Regions from separate parts of the Homo sapiens genome. Here regions 1, 2, 3, 4 and 5 are each reported to be linked to region 6. The links are microRNA targets in miRTarBase. Many come from high-throughput screens and were not tested one by one. Region 6 holds a microRNA gene; each other region holds the end of a gene's coding sequence.
What was found. Region 6 holds the annotated microRNA hsa-miR-6086 (GGAGGUUGGGAAGGGCAGAG, at 1,994-2,013, opposite strand). A microRNA usually pairs through its seed, bases 2 to 8, with sites in the 3' UTR of a target mRNA and lowers its output. Matches are read on the target gene's strand: a 7mer-m8 pairs with bases 2 to 8, a 7mer-A1 pairs with bases 2 to 7 and ends in A, and an 8mer does both.

Region 1 (5,076 bases), not on the chromosome of region 6:
CTGTCCTAGAAGTTCCCTAATGATGTCGTTTTATTTTGTTTATTGTTTTTTGAGACGGAGCCTCGCTCTGTCGCCCAGGCTGGACTGCAGTGCTGCGATCTCAGCTCACTGCAAGCTCCGCCTCCCAGGTTCATGCCGTTCTCCTGCCTCAGCCTTCTGAGTAGCTGGGACTACAGGCACCTGCCGCCACGCCTGGCTAATGTTTTGTATTTTTAGTAGAGATAGGGTTTCACATAGCCAGGATGGTCTGGATCTCCTGACCTTGTGATCCACCCGCCTCAGCCTACCCGTAATGATGTGTTTTTAATGGTTTGGTTTTGTTTTTTGGGTTTTTTTTTTTTTGAGACAGAGTCTCGCTGTGTTGCCCAGGCTGGAGTGCAGTGGCACAATCTTGGCTCACTGCAACCTCCGCCTTCCAGGTTCAAGCAATTCTCCTGCCTTAGCCTCCCAAGTAGCTGGGATTACAGGTGCCCGCCACCATACCCGGCTAATTTTTTGTATTTTTAGTAGAGATGGGGTTGGCCGGCTGGTTTCAAACTCCTACCTCAGGTGATCCACCTGCCTTGGCCTCCCAAAGTGTTGGGATTACAGGCGTGAGCCACTGCGCCTGGCCTTTAATGTATTTTGAAAGAAAGCGCCTTATAAATTTATGCCAGAGTGACAATGAAACTGTAGCCATTTGAATGTTACACAAACCCAGGACTGGCTACATGAGTTTGAGGAGGAGGTGTTTCCCTGCCTCTCTCTTTGCGCTGTGGGTGACCACTGCCTGTCTGCTGTCATTACATGAACCCTTAAGCACTCTGGGTGTTTCATATAGAAATAATCCTACTTTTCAATAGTATTGAAAGGTGTCATTTATCTTTTTGGACTGTTGATCAACTTCTTTTGATACTTGTTTAATAAATTACATCCAACTTGTTCCTTCCTTCTTAAATCATATTTATATATGCATCTCTTTCAAAAGCTTCAGCGCCTGCTCCTGGTCATCACTAACCAGATTTACTTGGAGTACATGTGAAAGAAAACGTCAGTCTGCCTGTAAATTTCAGCAAGCCGTGTTAGATGGGGAGCGTGGAACGTCACTGTACACTTGTATAAGTACCGTTTACTTCATGGCATGAATAAATGGATCTGTGAGATGCACTGCTACCTGGTACTGCTTTCAGTGTGTTCCCCCTCAGCCCCTCCGGCGTGTCAGGCATACTCTGAGTAGATAATTTGTCATGCAGCGCATGCAATCAGAATCTCACTGAGCCACCCATCATTGTGAAATAATTACCTCAGTTGTACAGGACTTGGTGATCAGGATCCAGGCACTCACTTGTATTCTACTGCTCAATAAACGTTTATTAAACTTGATCCTGCTACTTATCTTGTGGCCTCTCTGAGCCTCTTGTTTTCTTATTTGGAAAATGGAGATGTTAATTATGTAAGCTCTAACTTACAGTTATTATGAGGATAAATAAGAGAAAGATTTAAACTATGAAGTCCTTTAGAAATAAGGTAGCATTCAATGACATAGTAGTTGAAATTATAAGCTGTAGGAGAATATTGCATCAGGAAATAATCACAAGGCAAAGTACATAATAAGCCAATTGAAAAAAAAAGCCAATTGATTCTAGTTAGGCTAGTATCAAATGCATACTGCATAATATTTGTCTCCATCTAAGACAATTACCAAGATCCCTAAATTGTGCGCTAAAAAGATTCTAAAGCAGCAAGCATGGGGGTAAAAGTGAGTCCAGTTTGAAATCTGGCACTCTGCAGGTGGGTAGGAGAGCAGCTGTGGAATGGGGGTGGTGGCTGCACCCTGGGTGTCCTGTCCTCTTGAGACCATCCTGTTTATCATCTGTGTCTCTGGCATTTAGCCTCATTAGGTCTGGCCCATGGTAGATGTCCAACAGATGACGGAGATCTCTCTGAGCCTCAGTTTCTTTTGTAAGACAACCAAAACCTGTCATGGCTTCCTCCAACAGCCTCAGGGTTGTTGGGCTGTGTGAGAAGTTTGCAGGAAAGCATTACACAGCATCAGTGGAAGTCAGCGTCAGGTCGTGTGAGATTCAGAGGGTTTGGTTCTGACACAGGAATCACATTTTTCCTGCGAACGTATTTTGTTCTCTTCTGCCTCCAGAAGATGAATCTGCTGTGGTACAGAAAGGCCCTACCTTTAAAATTATCCATCTGCCCAGCTGCTCAGGCTTGAGAGTGCATTAGAATCACCTGGAAGGCCCTAACAGCCAGCTGGGCCCCAGTGTTCTGATTGCACTGCTGTAGGAAGGAGCCCAAGAACTTGTATGTCTAACAAGCATCCAGGACATGCGGATGCCAGGACCCCAGCTGGAAAATTTCTAATGATACAAAGAACCCAGGCCTGCCCTATCACAGCCTTCACATCCACTGCACTGGCACCAGGCTCCAGCCCTGTGTCACGCATCTTAGTGCATTTAGTCCACCTTAGAACCTAGTGAGGCATCAGTACAGGCCCTGACTTTCAGAACAGGAAACAGGCTGAGAGGCAGTAACACGCTACAGATGTCGCAGTTAGCAAGCACTGGGGCTAGGACTTGAACCCCCAGAACCTGAACTCTCCTCCAAAGGGAGGTGAGGACGGATGGGAGCTGCCCTCCCCACCCCCACCCCCCACCTCACCCCCGGAAGCAGAGATTGATGTGTCTGACCCAGGAGGGCTTCCCCACAAAGGCTGGGCCATTCCTCTTCTCCCTTTACTACTTAAGGCTTCCTTTGGCAAATTACCAGGGTAGGTTGGGCCCAGTGGCTCACGCCTGCACTTTGGGAGGCTGAGGCGGGCAGATCGCTTGAACCCAGGAGTTTGAGATCAGCCTGGGCAACATGGCGAAACCCCATCTCTACAAAAAATAACAAAAATTATCCAGGCGTAGCGGTGTGCGCCTGTAATCCCAGCTACTGGGGAGGCTGATGCTTGAGGATTGTTTGAGCTTAGGTCGAGACTGCAGTGAGCCAAGATCACACCACTGCATTCCAGCATGGGCGACAGAACGAGACCCTGTCTCAAAAAGAAAACAAAAAATAATTGCATTTGCTATCCCAGAACTCACTCACACACTGAATCCCTCGGGGTTTTGGAAACAACCAGGTCTTGTCCCGAAGGCAGCCTGTAGGTGGAGCTAGAGAATGTCACCTGGGCTTCCCCGTGGGCGAGGAGCACGGGGCCAGGAGGATCTGTTGAAAGGAGCATTTGGAGGGCGGTGCCAATGGGCAAGAGGTATGCACAGAGAGCCACGGGAGTGGGCAGGGCCAGTTCAGGAAGGAATCCCAGAGGCTTTTTGTCCCAAAGCCTACGCATTCGTGCTGCTCTGACTTAATGCAGTGCTCAGCTGTGCTGCAGAGTAACGACAAAGGCTGGGAGGAGAGGAAGTGGCTCACAGGCAGCTGAAGGTGTCATTTTAAACAACGTGCTCTAAGTTAGCCTCAGATGAGACTCTAGGAGAAGGCATGGTGTTTCTTCTTGATTGTCACTGTATCCCAGGGGTACACGCACCCCAACCAGAGGCTTTGGAGGGTGTGCTTCCTGCCACCCTCAAGGGAGTTGTCTCTGTCAAGCTAACGGATCCCGAGTTCCGGGGTGCCAGGCCGTAGTCTGCTTCATTTTTATCTGCACAATAACCCGTGAGCCCATACCATCACCCCATTTCACAGCTGAAGAAATGGATGCCCAGACAGGATAAGTAGTTTGTACTAGAGGATAACTACCTGGCTAACAAACCAACTAGTTAACTGGTTGGCCAGGATTCAAAATCTGACCCGCTTCAGAATCGGGACTCGGACCACAGCGTGGCTTCAGAGAGCTCCTTCACCTGTGCTGGGCGTGCGTTGCCGTCGGGGATGCGGCGGTGGTTAGCACACGTTCTCTTCACTCCCTGAACACAGAGGCTAGAGAACAGACCTGCAGACACACAGTGCCAGTGCTTGGCAGACACAATCCTGGACGTCTGTGCTGTTAGGAACCGTCTGACGGGCGCCAGCATCAGGCCTCGCTGCACACGGGCCTTGGAGCAAGCACAGCACCTGCTCAACAGCCAGCTCTGAGCACGGACCCTGCTTCCACCCTTCAGACAAACCAGCCACCAAGAGGCATTTCTGGTACGTACAGAGAAATGTGAACGTGGACTGGGTGTTAAGTGATGTTGAAGTGTTAATCTTATTAGGTGATCACCACCACAATAGTGGTATTGTAGTTATTAAAGAAAATTTCTTTGGTTTTAGAAATGGAGGTGCAGGCCGGGCACAGTGGATCATCTGAGGTCAGGGGTTCAAGACCAGCCTGGCCAACATGGTGAAACCGTGTCTCTACTAAAAATACAAAAACTAGCCAGGCGTGGTGGCACGCACCTGTAATCACAGCTACTTGGGAGGCTGAGGCATAAGAATTGCTTGAACCCAGGAGGCGGAGGTTGCAGTGAGCCGAGATCGTGCCATTGCACTCCAGCCTGGGCGACAGAGACTCTGTCTCAAAAAGAAAAAAGAAAGAAATGCAGGCGCAATTATGTAGGTGTGAAATGATACCTAGGATGTACTTTAAGATACACCAGCAAATACTAGCCAGTCAAAACAGATTGGGGGGACGGAGTCTCTAGATGGGATGAGATCGGTAATTGTGTAGAGGGTAGGGGGTGGACGTCTAGAAGTGCATTACAGAATTCACTCTGCATACATTTTAACTTTTCCCAATAAAAAGTTTTTAAAAATACTTTAAAAAAAAAGCCATGTGATGGAAGCCTGTGTTAGTATTATAATACCTGTTTGAGAAGCTGGCACTGTGCAGCCCCAGGAAATGAAGGTAACGACTCTGCGGGCGGCTCTGTCAGACAGTGACTGTCTCATCACCACTCTTCACAACAACCGCTCCCCTGATGTCTCTTACTACAAAGGAAGTCTCAGCTTTTTCACTTGTTTTCCCTCTTAAAGAATGATGTAATATAGGCCAGAGTTAATGAACACCTAAGTCTAGAGGGAAAATGTCAGAAAACTCTCATTTAGTTAGGAATAAAAACTTATTTTTTAAACCAGGCACAGTGGCTTATGCCTGTAATT
Region 2 (5,076 bases), not on the chromosome of region 6:
CATTGTACTTCAGCCTGGGCGACAGAGTGAGACTCTGTCTCAAATAAATACATAAAAAATAAATGTGGAATTCACTTTGCAGTTGCTGCTGTACAACGCACATTACTCAATCTTTATGTTCGGCATTCTATGCTCTACTGAGAAATTTGGGTAGGAGTGAAGTATTTTGTATACATATCTTCATTTAATAAATAGCAATAGCTGGGTCTATCTTACTATTTTATCTATTGATAAAATATTTTGTTTCCCCAAGGAGTGCGAAGTATGTATATTACAATGAAGATATGTTTTAACCTTTCACCATTTGCTTCATCTTTTTCTACAGGGTGGCATGGAGAAATCGTTGTCAAAACAGAGATGTCCGTCAGTATGTTCAAGGTTGTGGAGTGTAACTCCAGAATTTTCCTTCTTCAGCTCATTTTGTCTCTCTCACATTAAGGGAGTAGGAATTAAGTGAAAGGTCACACTACCATTATTTCCCCTTCAAACAAATAATATTTTTACAGAAGCAGGAGCAAAATATGGCCTTTCTTCTAAGAGATATAATGTTCACTAATGTGGTTATTTTACATTAAGCCTACAACATTTTTCAGTTTGCAAATAGAACTAATACTGGTGAAAATTTACCTAAAACCTTGGTTATCAAATACATCTCCAGTACATTCCGTTCTTTTTTTTTTTGAGACAGTCTCGCTCTGTCGCCCAGGCTGGAGTGCAGTGGCGCAATCTCGGCTCACTGCAACCTCCACCTCCCGGGTTCACGCCATTCTCCTGCCTCAGCCTCCCGAGTAGCTGGGATTACGGGCGCCCGCCACCACGCCCGGCTAATTTTTTGTATTTTTAGTAGAGACAGGGTTTCACCGTGTTAGCCAGGATGGTCTCGATCTCCTGACCTTGTGATCCACCCACCTCGGCCTCCCAAAGTGCTGGGATTACAGGCGTGAGCCACTGCGCCCGGCCACATTCAGTTCTTATCAAAGAAATAACCCAGACTTAATCTTGAATGATACGATTATGCCCAATATTAAGTAAAAAATATAAGAAAAGGTTATCTTAAATAGATCTTAGGCAAAATACCAGCTGATGAAGGCATCTGATGCCTTCATCTGTTCAGTCATCTCCAAAAACAGTAAAAATAACCACTTTTTGTTGGGCAATATGAAATTTTTAAAGGAGTAGAATACCAAATGATAGAAACAGACTGCCTGAATTGAGAATTTTGATTTCTTAAAGTGTGTTTCTTTCTAAATTGCTGTTCCTTAATTTGATTAATTTAATTCATGTATTATGATTAAATCTGAGGCAGATGAGCTTACAAGTATTGAAATAATTACTAATTAATCACAAATGTGAAGTTATGCATGATGTAAAAAATACAAACATTCTAATTAAAGGCTTTGCAACACATGCCTTGTCTGTTTTTATTTAGACTCCTATAGTGTCTCTGAAGAAAAGAATACAGATATTTGAAAAAATATGATTTGGTGCTCTTAATATCTCTTATATCGTCACTTACCTCACTTAAATAGTCAGATATTGCTGGAGAAAAATTCACAAGCATGCTGACAGGTCTCACTTTAAATTCATAACCATAAATCTCAAATGAGCCCTCAAGTCTGCCTGACCATTTTAGTTACTTCTCTACAATCCTTCCATTTTTATGTCCCTAGTCTCCAAAATGACTGTTACTATTTTACTTTTCCTCTTCTCTCTTCAAAGCCTCAAGACACACATTCAGCCTCCTCCTCTGCCCCCTTATCCTCCACCCTCCTCTGCTCTCAGCAGATAACCTGGCCTCATATTACACTTCTAAAACAAAAGCAACTTCATACCAAGCTTTCCCTTCTACATCCCAAAGCAGCAGTCATACCTTCCCACAGGCCCATCCTTCCTTCCTTCCCTCCTATTATCAGGATGAAGAGCCTCTGCTCCTGCCAACAGCACTGACTCCACATGCAGTTTCCCTCCCATCCCTCTCACTACTCCAAGTCAGGCTGTTTCCTGCATCCCTAGTTTGTCCCTTTTAGCTGGATCACCTCCATCATTCTACAGTCTGCCCTAGTAACCTTCCATCTTACAACAAATACTCCACTGACCCTACATAATCCTCCAACTGCAACTCCATTCTCTGCTCCCTTTACAGCAAGACTTCTGGGGAAGTATGTCTGTACTTACCAACTCCATGACCTCACCTCCCAGTGTCTTTTCAACCCTCTCTAATCTGGCTTCTATCCTCACCCAGCTGAAACTGCTCCTCCAGGATTTCTCCCATGATTCCTCAGTGCTAATTCCAGTGATCATCTTGTTCATCTCAGCAGCATTTGACAAAGTGAACCGCTTCATACTTTTAGCAGTTTTTTAATCCCTTGGCTTTTCCTTATTTACATCCTACCTCACTGACTGTTCTTTCTCAGTCCTTCTTGCTCACTCTTTCTCTGCTATTTAATTTCTAAATGTGAGAGTGCCTCAGGGCTCAAGTCTATAATAATTTTATATACTACATATTTTACTTATTTGTCTCTTCTCACCAAAATATAACTTCCAAAATGACAGAGGTTTTTCCACTTTTTAAAAAAACATTGAAATAAACTCAATCTTTTAAAAAATATAAAAGTACTGTACAAAGATCTTTTATTTTTCAGAACTGTTTTGAGAGTAAATAGCCAACATGATACCCAATGGCCCTGATTACATCAGTGTGTAATTCCTATAAAGACATTCTCCTGCATAAAACCTCAAAACAATTATCCAAATTAGGAAATTAACACTGATACATTACTACCACCTAGTCATCAGATTCCACTCAATTTCATCGATTGTCCCAATAAGACCTTCATAACAAAAGCATCTAATTCAGAATCATATTGTATTTGGTTGTCATGTTTTTTAAGTCTCTTTGAATCTGGATTATTTCCTCAGTTGTTTCTTTCTGGACTTTTTATGACCTTGCCACTTTTGAAGACCACAGACTAGTTATGTTATAGAATGTACCTAAGGTTTTTCTGGTGTTCTCTCGATTCCATTAAGTTATGCATCTTTGGTAGGAATACCACAGAAGTGATGTTCTCACTGCATCCTTTCAGGTGGCATTCAGTTTTTGCAGTTTTGATTTGCCCCATTATTGATGATGTTCACTTGGATCACTTGATTAAGGTGAGGCCTGCAAGCCATCTTCACTGTAAAGTATTTGGGGAGGAGGTGCCTTGAGACTACTGCTCATCAAATTTTCAGTTTGTTTGTTTATTTATTTAGAGGCAGGATTTCACTCTGTCGCCTAGGCTGGAGTGCAGTGGCGCGATCTCAGCTCACTGCAACCTCTGCCTCCCAGGCTTATGCAATCCTCCCGCGTCAGCCTCCTGAGTAGCTGGGACTACTCGCACGCGTTACCATGCCTGGCTAATTTTTGTATTTTTAGTAGAGATGGGGTTTTGCCATGTTGCCCAGGCTTGTCTGGAACTCCTGAGCTCAAGCAATCTGCCTGCCTTGGCCTCCCAGGTGCTGGATTACAGGTGTGAACCACCGTGCCTGGTCATGCATTTATTTATTATATCAGTATGGACCCATGGCTTCTATTTTATTCAAATCATAAGGAGTTATAGTCCATTACTATTATTTATTTTGATGTTCACACTGTCCTCGATTTGGCCAGTGAGCCCCTGCAAGTTGTCTTCTGTGCCATTTCGACATATTTCCATCATTCTTCAAGCACTTTCTTGTTTTCTGGCACAAGATATTCTAAGGCTCACCTTGTTCCTTCCTTGCTTCCAAAAATGGAAAAGGCATTTCTCCAAGGAGCCCTGATTCCTCAAAGTGCATAATAGTATTAAAAAAACAGGATCTGGGCACTAGGGTATCACTGTTTCCAGGCCCTATCAGTGAACAGAGCTGGAAGATATATGTATTTACACTATATTTATCTCTATATCTATCTATTTATATTGAAAATCATGAATCCACACCAATATCTCCAATTCTAATCTCACACCACAGGATTCACTCTAGTTTTCTTCTTTCGCATGTTTTAACTCTCTTCTCTGACAGTAAGTAACTTAGCATCCATTATACTCATTATCCTTAAAATGTATCCTTAGTACATTTACGTATTTGATGGGTTTGCCTGTATGTAACCAATTCCCCAACTCTGCCCAAGTGCTCTCCACTCAGGCTCTGACATCCCTCAGTGGGTTGCTTCCTTCCCCAACACCTGGACACCCTCCTTACCATGATACATCTCTGATTTTATAATATGCTGAACCACTGTCCTGATAGGAAGAATAGAAATTTTTCACTCATTCCACTTCTGTATTCTAAACACCTAGAAGAGTGACTGGAACATGGTACATGCTCAATCAATATCAGTTGATCGAATAAATCTCTTGCTGATTATTTAGTATGTTCCCTCCAAACTGAACATTCTAAGCTTTTTGTTTTTGAGACGGAGTCTCGCTCTGTCACCCAGGCTGGACTGCAGTGGCGCGATCTCAGCTCACTGCAACGTCCGCCTCCTGGGTTCAAGCGATTCTCCTGCCTCAGCCTCCCGAGTAGTTGGGACTACAGGTACTCGCCACCACGCCTAGCTCATTTTTGTATTTTTAGTAGAGAGGGGGTTTCACCATGTCAGGAGATCGATCTCCTGACCTCGTAATCCGCCCGCCTTGGCCTCCCAAAGTGCTGGGATTACAGGCGCGAGCCACCGCGCCCAGCCTTTTTTTTTTTTTTTTTTTTTTTTTAATTAACTCTTCAAGGCCACATGATTCCAGTACAACCGCTTGCGGGGTTCCAAGCCACTTCTTGGCTATGTAAATGCAGCACATAGACTAGCCATGTGAGGGCAGCAGAGGGCCACTACATAGGTGCAACCTTTGGCTTCAAAATTCTTGGACCATTCTGACGTGATTAAACTAAAAACGAATGAGTTTATGCATATCGAGATACCCTGAGGTGTACAAAGGATGAGTCAAGGTAGCGGAGAGAGAGTTGAAGAGTGACAGCTGAGAAACAGAGATAGGACATGTCCAAGAAGTGCCAGGATAACCCAACAACACAGGCTGATTGAGGAAACTGCCAGAGATTAGA
Region 3 (5,076 bases), not on the chromosome of region 6:
CCTGCCCTTCATCTCCCTGTTTCTTCCAAGGTAACTTAGATGATGCTGATGATAATAGCAATTAACAGTCAATAAGTGCTTCGATGATATGCCAGATACCCCCCAAGCTTTTTTTTTTTTTTGAGATGGAGTCTTGCTGTGTCACCCAGGCTGGAGTGTAGTGGTGTGATCTTGGCTTACTGCAACCTTTGCTTCCTGGGTTCAAGCAGTTCAATGTGAATTAACTAATGGTTTTCACACAGCCCTACCTGATGAGGTATGCTGTTGCAGGAAGAAGAAACTGAGGCATAAATGAGATTCAGTGACTGTCGACCACTCTGATCTTAATGGGATCAGGGATTTCCTGGAAATCTTTGAGGCTAAGCAAGGACTCTGTGCTTTTGGCTGGAAAAATTTACATACATTGTATTGGGGCCCTTCCCACCATTTGAGCCTTACTGGGTTTTTGCTCTGGCATTTCCAGCTCCTCCCTCCTGCCGTGGGGCCTCTGTAAGACATTGTTTGGTTGCTGGTCTGTGAATAGGTATAGTTTTAGCATTGGCTTTTTCTTTAAAGCAAAACCTAAAACCTCTTAAAAAAGTAACTGAAATGTCAAGAAGAGCTTTCTGGTATATTTTCACACTGTTCGACAGGCCTGTGGTGTGCCGGGGCGAGCTGCTGGCAGACCGGCTGGAGTTGGGCTTTCTGGAGCAGCTCTCACCATAGACTCTGCATGGACATCTTCTCCGCCCGGCAACATGCTGCCCTTTCACTAGGGCCTGTTTATAAAGAGTTCTACAGGTGTGCTTGTTTCCCCCCCGCACTTCCTACAGTAGCTGTTTTTATTAAAATGCTTTAAAAATAGGGAGCTAGAAGTGCTATCATGGTAAAAGAACTGCCTTTAGGGTAGGAGAAAGTGACAATTTCAGTAAAATGTCCTGTTACTGTCATTGACCGACCTTAAAGCAGTAGGGAAGAATGGCATGCGTGCCCAAGGTGGCTGTGGCACAGCAGTTGCAGGCAGCGGGGTTGGAGGCAGCATGGTGGGTCAAATCGAGTCTTCGGCTAGAGTAGGACTGCCTGACTTTCAATCCTAGTTCCCCCAGCTGGGTGACCTTGGGCTTCTTTGGGCTGCTATTTTCCCATATGTAAATGGAGATAATCATAGGGCTAATGTGAGGATTAAATGTAGTTGTGATCTATAAGTGTTAGTCTTTATTAATAGCATACATCCGAACTTTCACCATGCAGCTGCCTCCCGCTGTGTGTGTCTCTGTTGGTAGGAAGCCTGATGAGTGAGGATAATTCCACACCCAAGTCTGCATCTCTCCCAAGCGATGTCCCTGTTTGCTTCACTTCCCGAAGGTACTGTGGCTCCCATCTTCCCACCACATAGGGCTGTCAGTGAGTTAACTGTCGTCTCATTTGGCTGCACTCAGCCTGAATGTGTGTACATCTACAAACGCAGCTTCTTTGGGTTTATTTACAGAGCTAGCACTTCTAGGCATGGGCCCCCAGCTTCCTGTGTAAAGATGAAAACTGCAATCCTTCCACTTCAGCCAGACGCAAATAACTGGCTGGGAACCACCCAACTGACAGGGACTTCTCTTGCTCCCTGCATAAACCACCAGGGGAAGGAAGGCTGAGTTTAACAGAGACTCAGACGACAAGATTTAAATAAATAAGCTGTATTATCTGTACAAAAAATACAAATACAGTTTTGTGTTTTAGAGGAGAAAGTGCCTCCTTCCACATTAGCCAGCAGCCTTCATTGTCTTGTGGTGCTGCTGAGTTGCAATTCACAGAACAAACATTAAATGTACATTCATTTCATGCAACGAGCATTCTGCTTCCCACCCAAACCTAGGTTCTGCCAGCTCACTGAGACCCACTGCCAACTGCTCCAACCCAACATGGAGCTGGAGGATGCTTGCTCTTTAGGAAATGTAAATAGTGACCACTGATTTTCAATCACTATCGAACTAGAAATAATTAACCACATTAGTAGTAGTATGGAATTTGTCTGTCTTTATCATTCCATGCATAACTATTATGCCACAAATGAATTCCCTCTTACTGCCTCAGCATCCCATGTTAGTTTTTACAACACATCCTGTACAGTGAATGGATCCAGAGTTAAACACCAGGTTCTATTAAAAATAGGAAAAATATAATAATCACTACTGAGTTTACAGGAACACAACTGCAGGAAGTTAGTTAATAAAGTCCCCCCAATAGTTTTGTTTCTGGATGACAATGTACAATTATTAATATTGCACTTTTTTAATAAGAAATCCTAATAAATATTCACAAAAGATATACAGACATAGAAAACATTCTTTTTTATTTTAAACAGACTTTACACTGATTTTTTAGTAACATGATTTCTTAGAGCCTGTTTTTGTGGTGAAGAAGAAGGAGACCCAACTTAAACCTGTCCACAGCTCACTAGGTGGGGACACAGATTAATATTGTCTTCCTCTCAAATTTTACTTCCAGGCTGGCTGGAAATGCAGCCCTGATGTCAATGGTAGCCCGGGGTGAGTGGCATTTCATGAGGGGAGGCTTATCTGTGGGTAAGGGACTCTGGCCACCCTTGCTCCTAAACTCAGGCCACGCGAGGGAAGGAGGCAAAAATTACTTGGCCAAAGCTGCTCGGCTTAATGAGGATTTTGCCGAAGAGTCCCAGAGTTTTCATTTTGCTGCATGACTTTGACTTTGCTCCAGCCGCCTCACCACAGCTGATGAGTGTGGCTGCAGTGTGTGAGCTGCTTTGCCAGGGTGCTGCCTCCACCACCCCGCCTTGCTAGATAAATACTACATGCCGGAGGACCTGCAGACCCTGGGGTGGAGGCTGGGAGAGGGAGGGTGTACTGTGGACACGCATAAACCCATTGTCCCACCCCGGTCCCTGGGCCAGCTCTGGAATGAAGAGGTTGCTACAACCTGACAGCCTGACAGATACTCTCTGGCACAGTGACTAGTTAATGGGTTGATGTTGATAAGTTAACCATAGTCCCTGGCCCTTCGGTGGAGCAGCAAAGGTCCTAGAAGGCAAAAAACCTGGGCCATTCATGCTCAAAATGGCCCTGGCCCACAGCAGCAGTTAGTTAGTGCGGGGCTAGGGGACTTCGGATTTAGATAAAGAGGTGCCAGGGTGGCCTTACTGCATGGCGAGACCCACCTCTCACTGGCTTTGCTGCAGCTGCACAGGCAGGACGTTGACTCTGATAGCTTGGGAAGTGGGGACTCCCACGCAGCGCAGTGCTCTGTTGTGGGCAGCAGGGCTCTGAGCATGCGCACATGCATGGGATCAGAGCTGGTCCATGAGCCTCATGCAGCCTGGAAGCCCCTGCTCACCCTGCCCCACTGGGGAACACCACAGGCTCCTTTTTGCTTCTGTCCCTTCCCTCCCCTCCCTTCCTCATTTTCTGCAATGTTGTGTGCCTTAGAGCCTGCTTTGTTTGCTTTTTTACCTCTCCCTACTGGTGATCTGAGTTCTTCTCTCTCTGCACTCACCCACTAGAAGAACTGAGTGAGTTCTGGGCTAGTTTCTGCCTCAGCATGGTGTCCCCTCCCCATTTGTCCTAACTGTGACTAAAGGGACATAGATGGGGAAGAGGAGACAAAGGAGCAAAACACTCCTGTGTTTGTGATAGTGCGCTTCTAGGAAAGACACAGGAATTTGTCCAATGTTTGCACCAATAGGCTACAAACCTTCTGGCTCCCTGCTGTCCGCAGGGGCTGTGCCTGCCTCTTTCTAGGTCTTTGAGACCCAGGTTTGGGAGGGAGGAAGCTCTTCAAGGGAGCCCCCACTGTCTGCCTGGCCTGCTCTGCAACCTCCTTTAGACATCTGTCCTTTCCTTTCCCAACATCCTGTCCTCCAGCTAACTGAAAGAGAAAACACGCGGACGTCCTTATGCTTGAAGGTGGAGGTGGAGGAGGTTGGAAGGGTGTGTGTGGAGTGGGGAGGGGGAAATAAATAAATAAAATGAAGAAAGCTTAGGTTCTGTCCGAGGTGGTTGCGTGAGTCCTTCGTGTGGCCAGGGTAGAGTTTTTCCCCACACCCTATCTTCACGCTTTGCCACAAGTTCCACAGCAGCGAGATTTAAACTGGCTGAGTTGGCAGAGTTTCAGCTGTTTCACCTTCTCGCAGTACCTGGTGGTGTCTCTGCACTCCACTGGGAAAGGAGGACGGGGTCGGGAGAGGAGACAGAAAAGAGATGTGAAACAGAGACTAATGAACGCAGCCTGTGTGAGGTGCAGCCGGGGGTTTCAGCCACTGGGGTACATCCTGGGGTCTGCCTTGGCCACCGCTCTCCAGCCTAACTTTGACAGAGCTCAGCCACTTGCTCCCCAAGGCTGCCAACAGCAGGGGTGGCACCAGCCTGCAGCTGTCTGGCTGAATGATGGGGCCCCTCCCTGGGCTGTCTGCTTGTTTTCTGCAGCTCCCTCTACTTCCTGAAGGTGCCTGTTTTCTCTATCTTCTTGGGATTACCTCATCTCCTAGGTGATCACCTCTCCCCCTAGGCAAACCTGCCTTTTCCCGTGGGTTTTGGTATTTTAAGTAAATGACTCTCCTCCTCAAGATGGTTCCCAGCACTGCATCCTCCCCGACTTTGCAGGAGTGTGAAGTGAGACTTGCGTCGGGTGCCCCCATCCCCAGGCACTTGGGCCTACTTTCTCTGTTAAGCTTTATTTTCATGTGCCCTCCAGTCTCTCTTCCTTCTACCCATCATGCCTTAAACACAGCACCAGGACGTTCTAGTTCAGTGTTGGCACAGACTAGATGGTCTTAAATATTGTGCTGACTTGGTTTGGTAAGTTTTAACTATGTGCGTTGAATATTGGCGCTCTCTGAGCATGGTGAGCCACTGACACAAACATGGGTTAACACTACCCGAGTACAAAGATCATCCATCCCCCAGCGTGTAAAAAGAAGTGGGCTATTTGCCTACATGGCGTCTGCCTTAGTGTTGGGAATTTATTGCTCAGTGAGGCCCAGTTGGGGAGAAAACTGCACAGCTACATTTGGTTTTTACTTCCTACTCTTTGCCTCAAGCTTTGCCACCTTTCTCATGGGTAAGTACCTCTGAT
Region 4 (5,061 bases), not on the chromosome of region 6:
TAGAACCTAATAATAAATGTACTGGCAAGGGTTAATGAAAATGTTTCTCTTAAGAATCTGAAAATGTTTCAGAAAATATAAATTCATGAACTTACTTCTAAAATGTTTTTAACTTGAAGATGTAATGTTAGTATGTCAGAAGTAAACATGAAACTTTTAACTTCCTCCTCCTTGATATCATGCAAACTATGCTACTGAGACAGGAATTGAGATATCTTCATCAGGCTCTTTATAATTATCAAGAATGGTGGAGGGCCGGGCGCGGTGGCTCACGCCTGTAATCCCAGCACTTTGGGAGGCTGAGGCTGGGCAGATCATGAGGTCAGGAGATTGAGACCATCCTGGCTAACAGGGTGAAACCCTGCCTCTACTAAAAATACAAAAAATTAGCTGGGTGTGGTGGCACATGCCTGTAGTCCCAACTACTCGGGAGGCTGAGGCAGGAGAATTGCTTGAACTTGGGAGGCAGAGGTTGTAGTGAGCTGAGATCGTGCCACTGCACTCCAGCATGGGTGACAGAACAAGACTTCGTCTCAAAAAAAAAAAAAAAAAAAAAAGAATGGTGGAAATACAGAGTTTGCTTCACAGGAGATTCACCAAAACTAATCATGCTTTTTTACTAATCTTGAATATTTTAATTCTTAGGTAGATGAGGCAAAGAGCCTCACCATTTGCTTTTTGCCTAAAAATAAGGTATCTTTTCCTTCATGTTAAACTCATGCTCTTTGCTTTCCTTTCACACAATGTACCCACAAAGGAAATGATTTTTTGAATAGTCCAGAAACAAAAAGGCAAGGTCACTGAACACTTTCATCATTATTTCCCAACTTGATAATACATCTGAATTCTGAACATCTCCACACGGGCCAATATAACTTATTTTTTTTTTTTTTTGAGATGGAGTATCACTCTGTCACCCAGGCTGGAGTGCAGTGGCACTATCTCGGCTCACTGCAACCTCTGCCTCCTGGGTTCAAGTGATTCTTCTGCCTCAGCCTCCCCAGTAGCTGGTATTACAGGCGCGCGCCACCATGCCCAGCTTATTTTTGTGTTTTTAGTGGAGACGAGGCTTTACCATATTGGCCAGGCTGGTCTCAAACTCCGAACCTCAAGTGATCTGCCCACCTGGGCTCCCAAAGTGCTGGGATTACAGGTGTGAGCCATAGTGCCTGGCCTATAACTCATTTTTAACACCACACTTTACCCACAATGAAAATAGATTAACTTCCATCATATTCTCTTAATTATGGCAGTCAGAAGTTGGCTAAGGGGCCAAGCGTGGTGGCTCACACCTGTAATTCCAGCACTTTGGGAGGCCGAGGCTGGAGGACCCCTTAAGCCTAAGAGTTAGAGACCAGCCTGGGTAATACAGGGAGGCCCCTATAAGGAGACCCTCTAACTCTTTGAAAAAAAAAAAAAGTCTGTTAATGTTCAAAGGGAAGGGACGTAACTCCACATCTTGATAAGGGTAGTGGCAAGGTTCGAGAAGGGTATGAGACTTTAAATATTGTTGGGGTCATTTCTGCAAAACACAACTTGCCATAGGTTTCTTTTGTAAAATGGGAGACCAGTGATTACCAAAAGGCAGCAGGGAAAAAGAACTGGCATGATCCCTTGATATGGATATGTTTTTATGTAGGTCAATTTTAATAAAGGATTTACATGGGCACTGCGATCTGAATTTGCATTCCCTTAAAGCTATTTATGCCTGCATATCCCTTAGAAAGTTTAATATTCCCAGGAGTATGTAGACCCTTGTTTGAAGACTCTACTATAGACTACACTTCCATCCTTTAAGCATATGAATTTTTAAGATGTATACTTAATTGTAAGTTTTTCTAAAAAGTTATTCAGCATTTTTATAGAGGTAAAATGTGTATCCTAGAACATTAAAAAACAATCCCTTTCATTTTAAAGAATAATCAATTCCTTTTACTCAGATAAATAAAAATAGAGTAACGGTAACAAACCAAATGGCCAATGCCACAAGAATTTTGATAACTGAATACACTACTTACAGTGTATGCATCTTTCCTGAGGACAAAAATTTTTCTTAAAAAACTCAGGCCAGGTCTCTAGAAGTAGATGTTGGTAAGCGTTAGCAAGAAATTTTACCTTTGTTTTATGTTACACTTACAGTGAAATAAAATGTACGTAGACCATTAGAAGAGTTACAGTTTGAATGTCTTCCAAATATGATATAAATACACTGGCACAAAATCCTAACTTCTGTTTTCGTCTTTACTAATAACCCAATGATCTAAGAGATGCTTCAGTAAATTATCTCCAAATGTCATTTCCTAAAGACAACATTTCTTACCTATAAAGTTCAATAAAGTATTTAAAAAAGTATTCCCTTTGCTTTAATTTCCATTATACATCATGACCTCAACATATCTGGAAAGACATAATGTTGGGAATAAGGACTTTTTCTTTAAAATACTGGGGAAAAATTACTAAGTTATCCCTTTTATATACAGGGTGTAGGTAGAACAATATAGTAGTTACAATCAGAATTTCTACATCCATTTATCACTTAAGTACCTACTATCTTGCAGACACTATTCTAAAAACTAAGGAAATGGGGGTAAATGAGAAAGTAACAGCTACCACTTATTGAGTGCTTACTATGTGCCAGGCTCTGGCTTAAGAGTTTCATACATAAATTCATTTAATCCTCCAACACAACACCTCTATGACACAGGTACTATTAATTTTCTCATCTTACACATGAGAAAATTGAGGCATAGAGAAGTGAACTCATCCAGCTAGTAACTTGTAGAAACAGCATTTCCAAAATCCTGGCTTTCATGGAGCTTTTATTAATCTAAAAGCCTTCCATTCTTATTTTCTAGTCTCTGTGAAATACCTAATGAACAAATTTCTGTGGGTATGGTTCAAATAGGAGGTGTGACCATTTTGTTTTTACACGTTTCTTTCTGGGAATGTTGAAACAAAAGTTTTACTAGCTCTATCTTCGTATTTTGTAACTTCAAAATGCCTAGAGTCTGTGTTACATGTTAAAACACCTGATTTTGGCCGGGCATGGTGGCTCACGCCTGTAAACTCAGCACTGTGGGAGGCTGAGATGGGTGGATCATTTGAGATCATGAGTTCGAGACCAGCCTGGTCAACATGGTGAAACTAAAAATACTAAAAATACTAAAAATACATGTTCTGGGCTGGGCACGGTGGCTCATGCCTGAAATCCCAGCACTTTGGGAAGCCAAGGTAGGGGATCACTTGAGACCAGGAGTTCAATCGAGACCAGCCTGGCCAACACGGTGAAACCCCATCTCTATTCAAAATACAAAAATGAGCCAGGCGCGTGCCTGTATTCCCAGCTACTCAGGAGGTCGAGGCGGGAGACTCGTATGAACCTGGGAGGCGGACGTTGCAGTGAGCCAAGATTGCGCCACTGCACTCCAGCGTGGGCAACAGAGTGAGACCCTATTTCAAAAACAAAACAAAACAAACAAAAAAAACAAAACATGGTCTCTACTAAAAATACAAAAATTAGCCAGGCATGGTGACATGTGCCTGTAGTCCCAGCTACTCAGGAGCCGAAGGTTGCAGTGAGCCAAGATTGCACCACTGCACTCCAGCTTGGGCAACAGACTCCATCTCAAAAAACAAACAAAAAACCACTTGATTTTTAAAAAATAGTTGGGGTAACAATTCTTCCATATTTTTCTCTCCAGAACTATAGGTATATATCCATAGCATCCCTTAATTTGGAAAACCACTTCTCTACTCCAGGTAGGCCCAGTGGTGTTCAAGGTCACAGAATCCTGTCTCATTATGGTGATGTGTCCATGATTCAAGTTAATTAGGTCTCACTGTGGCCTTGGCCACAGTTAATTGGTTCAATAATACAGAAACATGATCTAAGTATGGCAAATTTGTCTTCTCTTGGATTGATGGAGATGAGAGATGTTCTTTTTGCAATGGAAGTGATTTGAGGCTGCTGGTAGCTATCTTCTTTGGCCTCAAGAGAAACTAACTCCATAATGCTAAGAGGTATAGAGAAATTCAGATAGAACACTTTGATTTAGCAATGCATGGTCTATTCTTGCCTTTTCCAGTTAAATGAGTATAAAGTTATGCTTAAATGGGTTTCTGGGGCTTCAAGTTTTAATGCATTTTAACAGAAGCATTAGATAAAATGAGTATGAACAGAACTCTGTTATTCTCATCCTCATTATTTACGAACAAATACAGAGCTGTCTACAGCTCAAAGGATGGTTTACCTATTTCATTTTCAAAAATAATTTGCAAAACATTTACCTATGAACTCTAAGTGACTACAAAGCATTACTGTAGTAAGTCTACTTCTTTATCATACCACAAAACCACAATAGCTAGAAGACAAAATGTTTTATTTTAAAACATTGAAAAAACATTAAAAGACAAATGTCCATTATGTAACCAGGAATGTTAAATATATGGAAACGGTAAATCTCTAAAATGTGGTAGGTACTTCCAGAGCTAAATGTTGCAAGTTATCCTACTTTTTTCTCTAATATCAACAATACCTGATACGATGAAAAATAACAAAAAGACCTTACTAATTATCCAATCAAAGTCATCATCTTTGGGTAAATTTATATCAACACAACTTAAAGTTTTGTCCAAGATGTTCCTGACACATGAAGCTTCCAGTTGAATTTCAGAAATGTTAACAAAAGTATCTTCCTTTTTTGCCTGTGAATGTTTGAGTATTGCTGTATTGTTGGCTTATATCCACTACAGATACTGGTTCTAGGCCAGCCCAAGGATCTTCAAGCATTGAAGGCTTGAAATAATTTTCCAACTCATTAGACATTCTTTTTTCTCTAACACGCCCTGATCCAAATGGTGTAGATGTCCTTGGAGAACCCTTTAGAAAAAAAATCAGTTAAAAAAACACTTAGTAAAGATAATTGGTACTTCTTCCTTTAGCTAAAGGTTAGCGGGAATCACATTGCTGCTTAAAAGTTGTGACTTGAACCTAAATAATGTTCAATTACAAAGTCCATGCTTCCTTTAATCAAGTGTTCCTATTTTTTAAAAAAAGTACTT
Region 5 (5,076 bases), not on the chromosome of region 6:
GTTATAAGTATCAAATAGGCTTTTAAAAATCTGTTACATACTATAAAATGACCTCATAGTCTGGCTATACTTTTTTTACTTACATGTAGAGAAAATCTTGAAACAGTACATCAGACATGAAAATAATATCGTGTCATTTCATTTACAGGTCTGCATTACATTTACTGAATTTGGAAAAATGCAAAATATTTGTAACTTTCTTGTTGAAAAGCTAGATAGCTCTGTTGTCATCAGCCCACCCCAGTTCTATCATACTCCAGGTTCTGTTGAGAATCTTCGGTAAGTTTAAGCACATCTTTAACTAAGATATTCTTTAAACAAAACTATCCAGTGCTACATTTCATTGAGTGTCATATTAATAATCTCTCCATTTAATTCCTAAGACGGCAAGCCTGTCTTGTTGCTGTTGAGAATGCGTGGCGCAAAGCTCAAGAAGTCTGTAACCTTGTTGGCCAAACCTTAGGAAAACCTTTACTAATCAAAGAAGAAGAAACAAAAGAATGGGAAGGCCAAATAGATGATCACCAGTCATCCAGACTCTCAAGTTCATTAACTGTACAACAAAAAATCAAAAGTGCAACAATACATGCTGCTTCAAAAGTATTTATAACTTTTGAGGTAAAGGGAAAAGAGAAGAGAAAAAAGCACCTTTGAAATTCCAAACAAATTATATTGTACTTGTATCTTTTTACCTATTTTTATACTTTTTATAATGTTTACGTTTGTCCTGAATATATATATATATATATATATATATATATATATGGTATAGGAGATAAGCTATTTCTTTCCAAAATCTATAAATCTTTGAATATAGTCCCACAGAATACTTATGTTCACTTTCTATTTTTAAAAGACTACTCTGAAAAACACTCTTGGATAATAAATGTATTATGTGCATACTTATATACTGACAGTTCATACAAGCACATGTGTAATATTTCTATTATAAGGACAGATATTGACCCTTGCATTTCATAATTTTTAAAGATATTTAAGCTAAAATTTTCTCAGCCACATTTTTATATAAAACCAAATTTTATGTAAAAACTAGGCTTCAATAAGTTAGCTAAATTTTTTAAATTGTAAGACAAAATTTTTATGGAAAAGAATTCCTATATCCCATCAAACCTAATAATTTTCCACAACTAAAAATGAGTATAAATACATAATTTTAAGTGCATCCTGTCAGGTCTGATATTTAATTTTACTTTAGTTAGAAGCTAAGTAGTTACCCTGTTACTTCTTCATGGATGCTAACAGAAGACTTGAGATTCCCAGACAGAAACAAAGGACTATTACTCATGGCACAACAAGGAGCATGAGCATCAGCACATTCTCATTGCTTCCCCTTGTCCCAGGTCCCATGGGGGCAAAATGATATGGCCATATGCAATATGGCTACATATACAGCAGGCTTTTGTTGTAGGTAAAGAATACTGAGCTTGGAGGGTTCACTGCTTTTTATCCATGAACAGAAGCAAACCTGCTCTTTGCCTCATCCCTTATAGATGCTCACTCAAAACTCAATACTGAGAAATGGCCCAGGTAAAGAACAGCCAAGGTCTTTCATGCTTGCCACACCCAGCAATATGTTTAGGAAGGTGAAGTCTACTGAGGGCTATCTCACATCTAACAGTTTCTTTACTAGGACCAGAGACCATTTTGGTAAGATGCAGATAACAACCCCAACCTTAACAACTTCACAACATGAATAGAAATAGTGATAAATAATTCATAGCTTTTTACAAAAGAATAATGAGGTATAATAGGAAAATGTTTTGATGCCAAAAATAAAAGAGTTAATGTTTGGATCGGACTCCAACAGGGCTCCTTAGAGTGATACAAATACAAAGCAAACGATATGTGTAATTTAAAATTTCCTAGTGCACATGTTTTTTTATTTTTCTTTTTCGAGATGGAGTCTTTCTCTGTCGCCCAAGCTGGAGTGCAGTGGTACGATCTCAGCTCACTGCAACCTCTGCCTCCTGAATTTAAGCGATTCTCCTGCCTCAGCCTCCCAAGTAGCTGGGATTACAGGCGTGAGCCACTGCATCTGGCCCTGTACGCACATTTTTAAAAATAAAACTTTAAAAAAGAAACAGTTGAAACTAATTTTAATAACATTTTATTTAACCAAATATATCAAAAATATTATTTCAGCATGTAATCAGTATTTTTTAAATTGAGATATTTGTTTTATCTTCAAAATTCAGTGTATATTTTTACATAATAGCACATCTCAATTCACATGCTAAATTTTCATCAGAAATATTTTATCTGTATTTAAATTTCCTAAAATGTACAGTTGAAAAAAAGAGATTCACATACCCAGGTTGTTCTAGCATGCCTAAAAAATCTTGTAACTGGATCAAGTATCAGTTTTTAAATTAGTTAAAATTAAATAAAATTTAAAATTTAGTTCCTCAGTCACACTAGCCATATTTCAAGTACTTGAAGGCCACAAATGGCTTGAGACTACCTTGCTGAACAGACCAAGGTCAAACACTGAGATAATAATGATTCTTAAGGCCATTTGAAAGTTAACAGCAAGTATGTATTACTGCTATCTACAGTAAGAATTACATTTTATCTACAGGCAATCATAAGCCATGTCTGTTATGCAGCATAGGCTTTCCATTCTCTATACATCTAGGTCATAGAGTTTTTCCATTGATAAATCTGGATGTTTATATACCAACAGTACTTTCTTACAACATATTCCAGTATATAGTGTCCAGCTTCACCCACTTTTTAAAGTGGCCCTGAAACAATTTTATTCATCTTATTGGAGTGTTGCTGTAGGGGAAGAGTAGAAGCTAAGAAGAGTTTGAGTTCAACACCATTATATCCAAATCCTGACCTTACTACTGGAATGTAAGCTCCTTGAAAGTGGAGATCTTGTCTGTCTTGTTCACAGTTGTGTTCCCAGCCCCAGAGGTAGTCTCAGGGCCAATATCAAGTATGCTCTCAAATATTTGCTGGGAAAATTTACTAGCTGGATAAAAGGCAAGTTACTTTAATCTCTTTAATCTTCCTTTGTCCTTACAAATGAAAGAGACTAATAGTACTTAACCTTGCAGTGTTATTATAAGGATTAAAGTTGATAAATATATGATCATGAGAACAATTGCTAGCACATAACGGTCACTCTGAAAATAGTAGCTGATATATCAGCTGCATTGTTTGATTATTGTTGGCTCAATTAAAAGTTGGCTTTTCCAAATCCTCCATTAGGAAGAATTTTTAAATAGCCATATTGAAAATAAAGTTGTCAGAAAACCAATGTAACATATGTTGAATTTTTATTACCAAAAAGAAGTTACTATCCAGTTGTACAGAAAAGTAGAATGAGGTTGTGCATCAAGAAAAAAATTGTTCGTTCTCAACAAAAATTTAATCACATGGGTAGTTTTTTTTTTTTTAGCTATGGGTTCATGCTGTATTTGGTTGCATCATATTTGATAAAGAAGCTTCCAACTTAGCATGAAATACCTAAAGACAATTTTTTTTTTAAGTTAGTAGGCACTTTTTAGAATTTCCAGGAACTTTTAAAGATGTTGTCTCCAAAAAAAACAAAAAAATCCTGTAAAGTATACAATCCTACATTTTTCTATAGAAGAGCTTAGGGAAGAAATCATTCAAAGATTGGAAAGACTTATGTGTAGTATTCTGTATACTAAAGGGTATCAAATTTAGTTGTCAGTTGATAGCAATTTAATTTCTTGATACATGGCATACACTGGAATCTTATGATGAATTATTTAGGGGACCTGTGCCACAAAGTCTACTAGAATAAACCTATCCTAAACTTAATCCTGTTAGAATTTCCTTCTTTTGAACTCTGTTTAAAAAAAAAAAAATCTTTCCAGAAAGTAGGAAGTTATAATTTCTATTTTCTGAAAGACAAACAAAAATTCTAAATAGGATATTTGAAACAGACCCACTGTATCCTAAATGGAAGTGCTATTAAAAGGAAATGCTATTAAAATAAGATTTCATATATTACTGATAATTCATAATGAATTTTAGGATTCCATTCAATTACATACTAAAAATTACATTTTTTATAGTGGCAATGTACTTTTATCAGTATTCTTATTTGACGGTCAATTTGAGTTCAGTGTAAACAAATAGGACTTAGAAAAATAATTTGTAACTCAAGATGCTGTACCTCATCCTATAATTGTTGTTTTGTAATATTCCTTCTCAGGAATATGGGCTAAGGATATCTCAACTCTGTCAGATTTGTTGATAAGAATTTAATAGTAAGGAGTTCTTATAGCCTATAAAAAGCATGAATTATGAGATCAAATGTGGGAGTTACTATATGATTATCTGCATTACAAAATGAAAGCAAATGCTTTATTTATTCCAACAAAAAAAGACCTATATAAATTAGTTTAAGCTAACATTTAGACATTTACTATTACATATATGGTATTTGCAACCAAATCACTGAGTTTGTTGTTGTCGTTGTTTGAGGCTGTTGCTCTGTCACCCAGGATGGAGTGCAAGTAGCTCAATCATAGCTTACTGCAGCCTAAAAACTCCTGGGCTGAAGAAATCCTCTCACCTCAGCCTTTTAAGTAGCTGAAACATTAGGTGCACACCACCAGGCCTGGCTAATTTTTTATTAGTGATAAGGTCTTGCTATGTTGCCCAGGCTGGTCTCAAACTCCTGGCTTCAAGCAGTCCTGCCTCAGCTTCCCAGAGTGCTGGACTACAGGCTTGAGCCACTGCACCCAGCCCCAAATAGCTTCTACTCATAACCTAGTGTGGCCTAAATTTATTTAAAATGCCCGGGTAGGCCAGGCACGTTGGCTCACGCCTGTAATCCCAGCACTTGGGAGGCCGAGGTAGGCAGATCACTTGAGGTCAGGAGTTCGAGACCAACCTGGCCAATATATTGAAACCCTGTCTCTTCTAAAAATACAGAAGTTACTCAGGCGTGGTGGCGTGTGACTGTAATCTCAGCTACCGGGGAGGCTGAAGCAGAAGAAACGCTCGAACCTGGGAGGCAGAGCTTACAGTGAGCCGAGATCGCACCACTGCACTTCAGCCTGGGTGACAAAG
Region 6 (5,076 bases):
ATTTCCAGTGTCTACTTTGTTATGGATATGTACTTGGAGTTGCAACTTTAAATTCAGATGTTAGAAAAATAAATCTTTTTTTTTTTTTTTAAGCCCTGAAGACCTCTAGTTGTTCCCTGGAAACTGATTTCCAATGTGGTCCAGACAGGAAAGCCCAGCATAAATGCCAAATAGAACATAGGAGAAATGGTGAATAATACCCTTGCTATAAGGTTAAAGCTTCAGTAAGATGTTTTCAATTTACAGTAACTTTGGATCTGTGACTTCAACAGCCAATCGACAGCAAGGGAAATTCAGTTTGTGTTTAAAATGGCCTGAGATTGAAGCATGATTTAGACAAAGTAAAAGTCTTATTTGGTTCTCCCCCAAACTTCTCTATCTGAAGCTTTTCATCAGGTACTTGTTTATGGACAATTCTGTATTTCATCTCACTGAAGTGGCATACATTTTAAGGTTAATGATATCGAACTGATGAGACCCTGCCTTGGGAGGAGATTTAGACAGGGTAGAGGCTGAGAGCTAGAAGGCTCCAGGATACATAGAGGCAGGGCTTCAAAAGGAGTGAAGGGCAAATAGATGGACAGAGGGGAAGGCCTGGGTAGACTGTGACCTCACAGCCTGGGGTCTGGCTCTCCTTGTTGGGGCAGGTTGATGTGTATTCTTATTATCATGCATCCCACAACTCTGGCTTAGAAATCAGAAACCCAGCAATCAGGGAATAACTACCCTGTTATTTGGTGCTTCAAGAAACATGACTTTACCATCAAGAAGGACCATGCAAATTGGATAAAACATGATACACATTTTAGATCTAAAAATCATTGCAATTTAAGACCTGAACATTTGACTGGAGCAGTAGGTGTGCTGACCGTCTCTTCAGCTTGCAAAACTTGCATAGTGAGCATTTTGCTTGAACCCCCTGCACTTGCCCTTTTAACACCTTGCCTTCATTTATTCACCAGCGACATGCTGGGTCTCACAAGTTTTATGGCAGTAGACGCTGATGTTCGTGCAACTGTAAGAGAGACTCTAAATCATGTGTTTCACGTGGTTTTTGCCCCTTTCCACCTGACTGACTTCAAATAAAAATGTGTTATGTTGTGTCTAGCAAAAGAATAAAGCCACATTTAATCCCCCCATCACCTGGTGCTTTAATGACGAGAAGTCTGTGATGAGAATTATTGGTCCTTCCTGAAGGAATGGTAATTTATGAGGTATTTTCTATGCATGCCAGGTAATGAACTCACCCTTTAATGCATACATTCCTTACTCTCAGAGGTAGGTATTGCTCTCTCCAGGTTGCAGAGGAGGAAATTGAGCCTTAGCTAGCTTACCTTAGCTAGCTTGCCCAAGGTCACCCACGTCAGTCTGGTTCTCAATGCCCTTGATCATGACACTATCAATCCAATCAGGATGAGGACCCACCCTTTTAATTGACACAAGTCCCAGGAGGATATTCTAACTTCCTTTATCTAAGTGGGCAATGATGATCTTTGTTTTTGTCTAGTATTTTTATGCTCTTGTCATCTTGTCACAAGCAAACTATGATGGCAGAAGGTTTTGCATAATATGGAACATGTGGGAACGATATCAATGTTTTCTATTGTTTTATAGATTTTGGATATTATCAAGTTCTGACCCCACTTATGGTCAATCCAGATATTTTTTAACCAGCCAGAGAGAAGGAGGTTGGGGCAGGAACAGACTAGCAAAAAGAAGGTAGCATTGTTATTCCTAAAAATAGCTAACATGTTAGTGCTTTTATGGGACCTGCAACTGTGTTGTTATCCCATTTAATAGATAAATAACTTAGGATGAGGCACATGCTACCTACTGAAGGACACAGGGACAGTGAGAGTAGACTACTGCCCTGAAGGAATACACCCCTGGTGAGACAGTCAGGAGGAATGTGGATTTGGTTCTGCTACACTGCCAGTGTTGGTCGTTATGGAAAGTCATAAAAAGAAAAACAAGGCAAAAACTTTATGCTCATCTCTGCCCTTCCCAACCTCCTTGAAATGATCAGAGGCCTCTCTCGGAGTTCCTAACACATAGTCTGAGAAACAATGTCCAAGGCAAATTATGGTTCCTTGGTTTGCAATGTACAAAAAAATCAGCAAAATACTTAAAATCTTTGCATATATGCATATGTACCTTGAAAGCATTTAGAAATTGGCAGTATGAATTTTAAAAATGTGAGTTACAAATCTATAAGCTAAAAGGTGTACTTATTTTGTGGCTGAAGCCTACTGGTTGGGTGATTAATAATTAAAGTTTATTGCATTGGAAATCACTTAAATTATAATTAGAGGAGAAATTTACCAGCCTGCTTTTGCCCATCTTAGTTCCTTTAGATTAAAAAGAAAACCAAAAACAAACAACCCAGTCATACTCATTAAGATAATCACAAAAATAATTGACAAGACAGTCTTCTAAAATAAATCATGCCAAGTATGATGGCGTCAGCCACATTTTGTCTGGGAAGAGATCTCATAGGAACCCAGACCTTGGTTATTGGTAGTTATGCATGTCCTTGCCTGAGAGATCCACTGGCAATTTTGTGGCAGTTCATGGTATGACAGATAAAAACCTAAGGGCCCTGATCCAAGTGCAGGGTCTGAGTTTTTACAAAATTACCTTCACAGACTCCCTTGCTGTTTCTTCTCCAGCCGTAGCAGCAGGCCAGTTTAGTTCCATAGTGACAGACCCCAGGCTGACGTGCCGATGCTAACAACCCGTGATGCCTTGCACTGCAGATAAAGAACTACATGTTAGTATTGAGAAAATAGAAAAGACAACAGAAACTCTTCCCTACTACTAAAAGAACCAGAGATGTCAATTACCTGGTTAATTTCAACGAACCCGCAGTAAGTGCTAAATTAGATTTTGAAAACCTGAATTTTGGGGTTGCCAGCCTTCCTCAATAATTAGTTTCAACCATTTCCTTCTTCCCCACGGTTAAAAGAATCTATAAAACTAGGGCACATGAAGATGTCCAAAGTATATGTTTTTGAACCTTGTAGAGTGTCACTTTTCAGATCTGCTCTGTATACGCACAGCAACTATCCAGTTCTTTGTCTATTTCAGTCACTTTCTAATCCTGTGGCTTTGTCCCAGACCAGAGCTCTGCACTTTTATCCCACTGGCACCTGGGAACCATTGAATAGACTGGAATCAACATACACTATAGATGATTAAGAGTTGGAAGGGCTCGTTCAGCAAAGCCCTCTTATGTTACAGAGGAGGAAACTCCAGTCCAATGGAGTGGAGTCACATCCCCAGCAGAGCTGGGTGTTGGGAATTCTAGCCCAGGGCTCGTTCCCATTGACCTCCTGGAAACCCAATTTGCTAAACTGCTTAATTTTAGAGCAGAGATCGGCAAACATTTTCTGTAAAAAGCCAGATGGTAAGTATTTTAGGCTTTGTAGGGCCATAAGATATCTGTCCAAGTACAAAAGCAGCCATAGGCAATAGTAAACAGATGCGCATGACTGTGTTCCAATAAAACTTTATTTATGGACACTGTAATTTGAATAGCATATAATTTTCCTGTGTCATGATATGGTATTCTCCTTTTGCTCCATCTTCTAACATTTAAAAATGTAAAAACTGTTCTTCGCTCATGGGCTGTTTATAAAGAGGGGATCACCTAGCTTTGGCCAGCAGGCTGTAGCTTGCCTGATCTAGATGCCTGAAAAAGGTGAGCCCCCTGTCCCCCACCAAGTGCCCCCAAGTAGTGCCGCCATGGATGAAGCTCACTGCATGTTTACCTACTTACTGTCCTGGTATTGGACAGGGTTGCTACCAGACTTTGAAGGAAAATACTTGCATTGTATGTTTAGTGGAGGGCTGTGATTATTTCCTTACACATATTAAATACACTGTAAAAATGTTTCCTGGGCTCTTTAACAGACAAAGGAATGCACATTTTACCATGTGCTTTCTGCTACAGAACTGAACTTCATGCAAGTTAATAATATCTAAGTCAAGGTCGGGAAGTTAAACAACCTTGTAGATTTCCCTCAAGATCTGCCTCTCCCACAAATGTGATTACTCAGTTAAGAGCTATAAAGATATGGTCTGAGACATTTCATTTACTGAGAGCACCAAATGGGAGGATGATTTTAACATTTACTTTTTCTTGAAGAGAACTTTTTTTCATTTTTTAATGGAATTAATTTTAGGGATTCATAAGTCACTCAAACATTTAGAATAGGGTTTCTCAACTTCTACACAACTGATATTTTGGGCCAGATCATTGTTTGTTGTTGGGAGGTGTCCTGTGCATTGTAGGATATTTAACAATGGTCTTTATCTACAGTTGCCAGTAGCACACACCCCTCTAGTTCTGACAAACGAAAATGTCTCCAGACATTGCCAAATGTCCCCTGGAAGGTAAACTTTTCTTTCATTAAGTAGTAGTACTTTAAAGCAAAACATTTATTGTGCATTTGCTATGTACCAAGTACTGTCTCAGGCACATAGAGTACAGTGACGAAAAGGGCCTGGTCTTTGCTCTCTTAAGTTCACAGTCTATTGGAAACATATGCATTCAAGTATAGGATAGCATGCTAAATATTATTAAAATGCTCTGCTAAAGAGTTTTGACTGAGAAATAATGCAGCCATGTGTCTAATCTAATTTGTATATTCCTAACAATTCTGCAAGGGATACCACAATCTTGACCCAGTCTGCGCCTAACAGTTTCCAAAGAACCTATGATAAACTCCAATATTCTGTAGCACAGCAGGGTGACTACAGTTAGCAACAATGTATTGTAAATTTCCAGGTAGCTAGAAGAGAGGATGTCAAATATTACCAACACATAGAAATGGTAAATACTCAAGGTATTTGAGTATTTGATGGGTACCCCAAGTACAACTGGATCATGATATAGTCTATGCATGTAACACTCACATGTACCCCATAAATATGTAAAATATTTTGTATCAGTAAAAAAGAAGAAACTATGGGCAACTAACCATAAAGTATGCTGAGTAAATAAGTGCCAGTCCAAATACAGTGATGTCCTTAATAATTTTTTTACTTTAGTATTTTAAAAATTGAGATATAATT

Region 1: the mRNA of ATP5MJ is a reported target of hsa-miR-6086. The part of its 3' UTR that is shown has no 7-base or 8-base seed match.
Region 2: miRTarBase lists LYZ as a target of hsa-miR-6086. Seed matches in the 3' UTR shown: 7mer-m8 at 740-746.
Region 3: the mRNA of ADAMTSL1 is a reported target of hsa-miR-6086. Seed matches in the 3' UTR shown: 7mer-m8 at 3,921-3,927 and 7mer-m8 at 2,912-2,918.
Region 4: miRTarBase lists MPLKIP as a target of hsa-miR-6086. Seed matches in the 3' UTR shown: 7mer-m8 at 469-475.
Region 5: miRTarBase lists IRAK1BP1 as a target of hsa-miR-6086. Seed matches in the 3' UTR shown: 7mer-m8 at 1,976-1,982.

What each region holds. Positions count from the first base shown.
Region 1 is chr14:103,908,586-103,913,661 of GRCh38, reverse strand. ATP5MJ (ATP synthase membrane subunit j) reads left to right here. Exons shown (of 4, transcript NM_004894.3): 4 at 968-1,374. The coding sequence ends at 996. Among named protein-coding and RNA genes, the nearest start is that of ATP5MJ, 10 kb to the left of the region's middle. RefSeq lists an enhancer at 2,376-2,876.
Region 2 is chr12:69,352,828-69,357,903 of GRCh38, forward strand. It overlaps LYZ (lysozyme), which reads left to right. Exons shown (of 4, transcript NM_000239.3): 4 at 326-1,407. The coding sequence ends at 392. Among named protein-coding and RNA genes, the nearest start is that of YEATS4, 4.4 kb to the right of the region's middle.
Region 3 is chr9:18,907,526-18,912,601 of GRCh38, reverse strand. ADAMTSL1 (ADAMTS like 1) reads right to left here. Exons shown (of 29, transcript NM_001040272.6): 29 at 1,652-4,160. The coding sequence ends at 4,054. Among named protein-coding and RNA genes, the nearest start is that of SAXO1, 120 kb to the left of the region's middle.
Region 4 is chr7:40,128,381-40,133,441 of GRCh38, forward strand. MPLKIP (M-phase specific PLK1 interacting protein) reads right to left here. Exons shown (of 2, transcript NM_138701.4): 2 at 1-4,879. The coding sequence ends at 4,679. Among named protein-coding and RNA genes, the nearest start is that of MPLKIP, 3.7 kb to the right of the region's middle.
Region 5 is chr6:78,897,681-78,902,756 of GRCh38, forward strand. It overlaps IRAK1BP1 (interleukin 1 receptor associated kinase 1 binding protein 1), which reads left to right. Exons shown (of 4, transcript NM_001010844.4): 3 at 149-279; 4 at 384-5,076. The coding sequence ends at 654. Among named protein-coding and RNA genes, the nearest start is that of IRAK1BP1, 33 kb to the left of the region's middle.
Region 6 is chrX:13,587,230-13,592,305 of GRCh38, reverse strand. MIR6086 (microRNA 6086) reads right to left here and starts at 2,014; the gene lies at 1,960-2,014. EGFL6 (EGF like domain multiple 6) reads right to left here. Exons shown (of 12, transcript NM_015507.4): 2 at 2,638-2,750.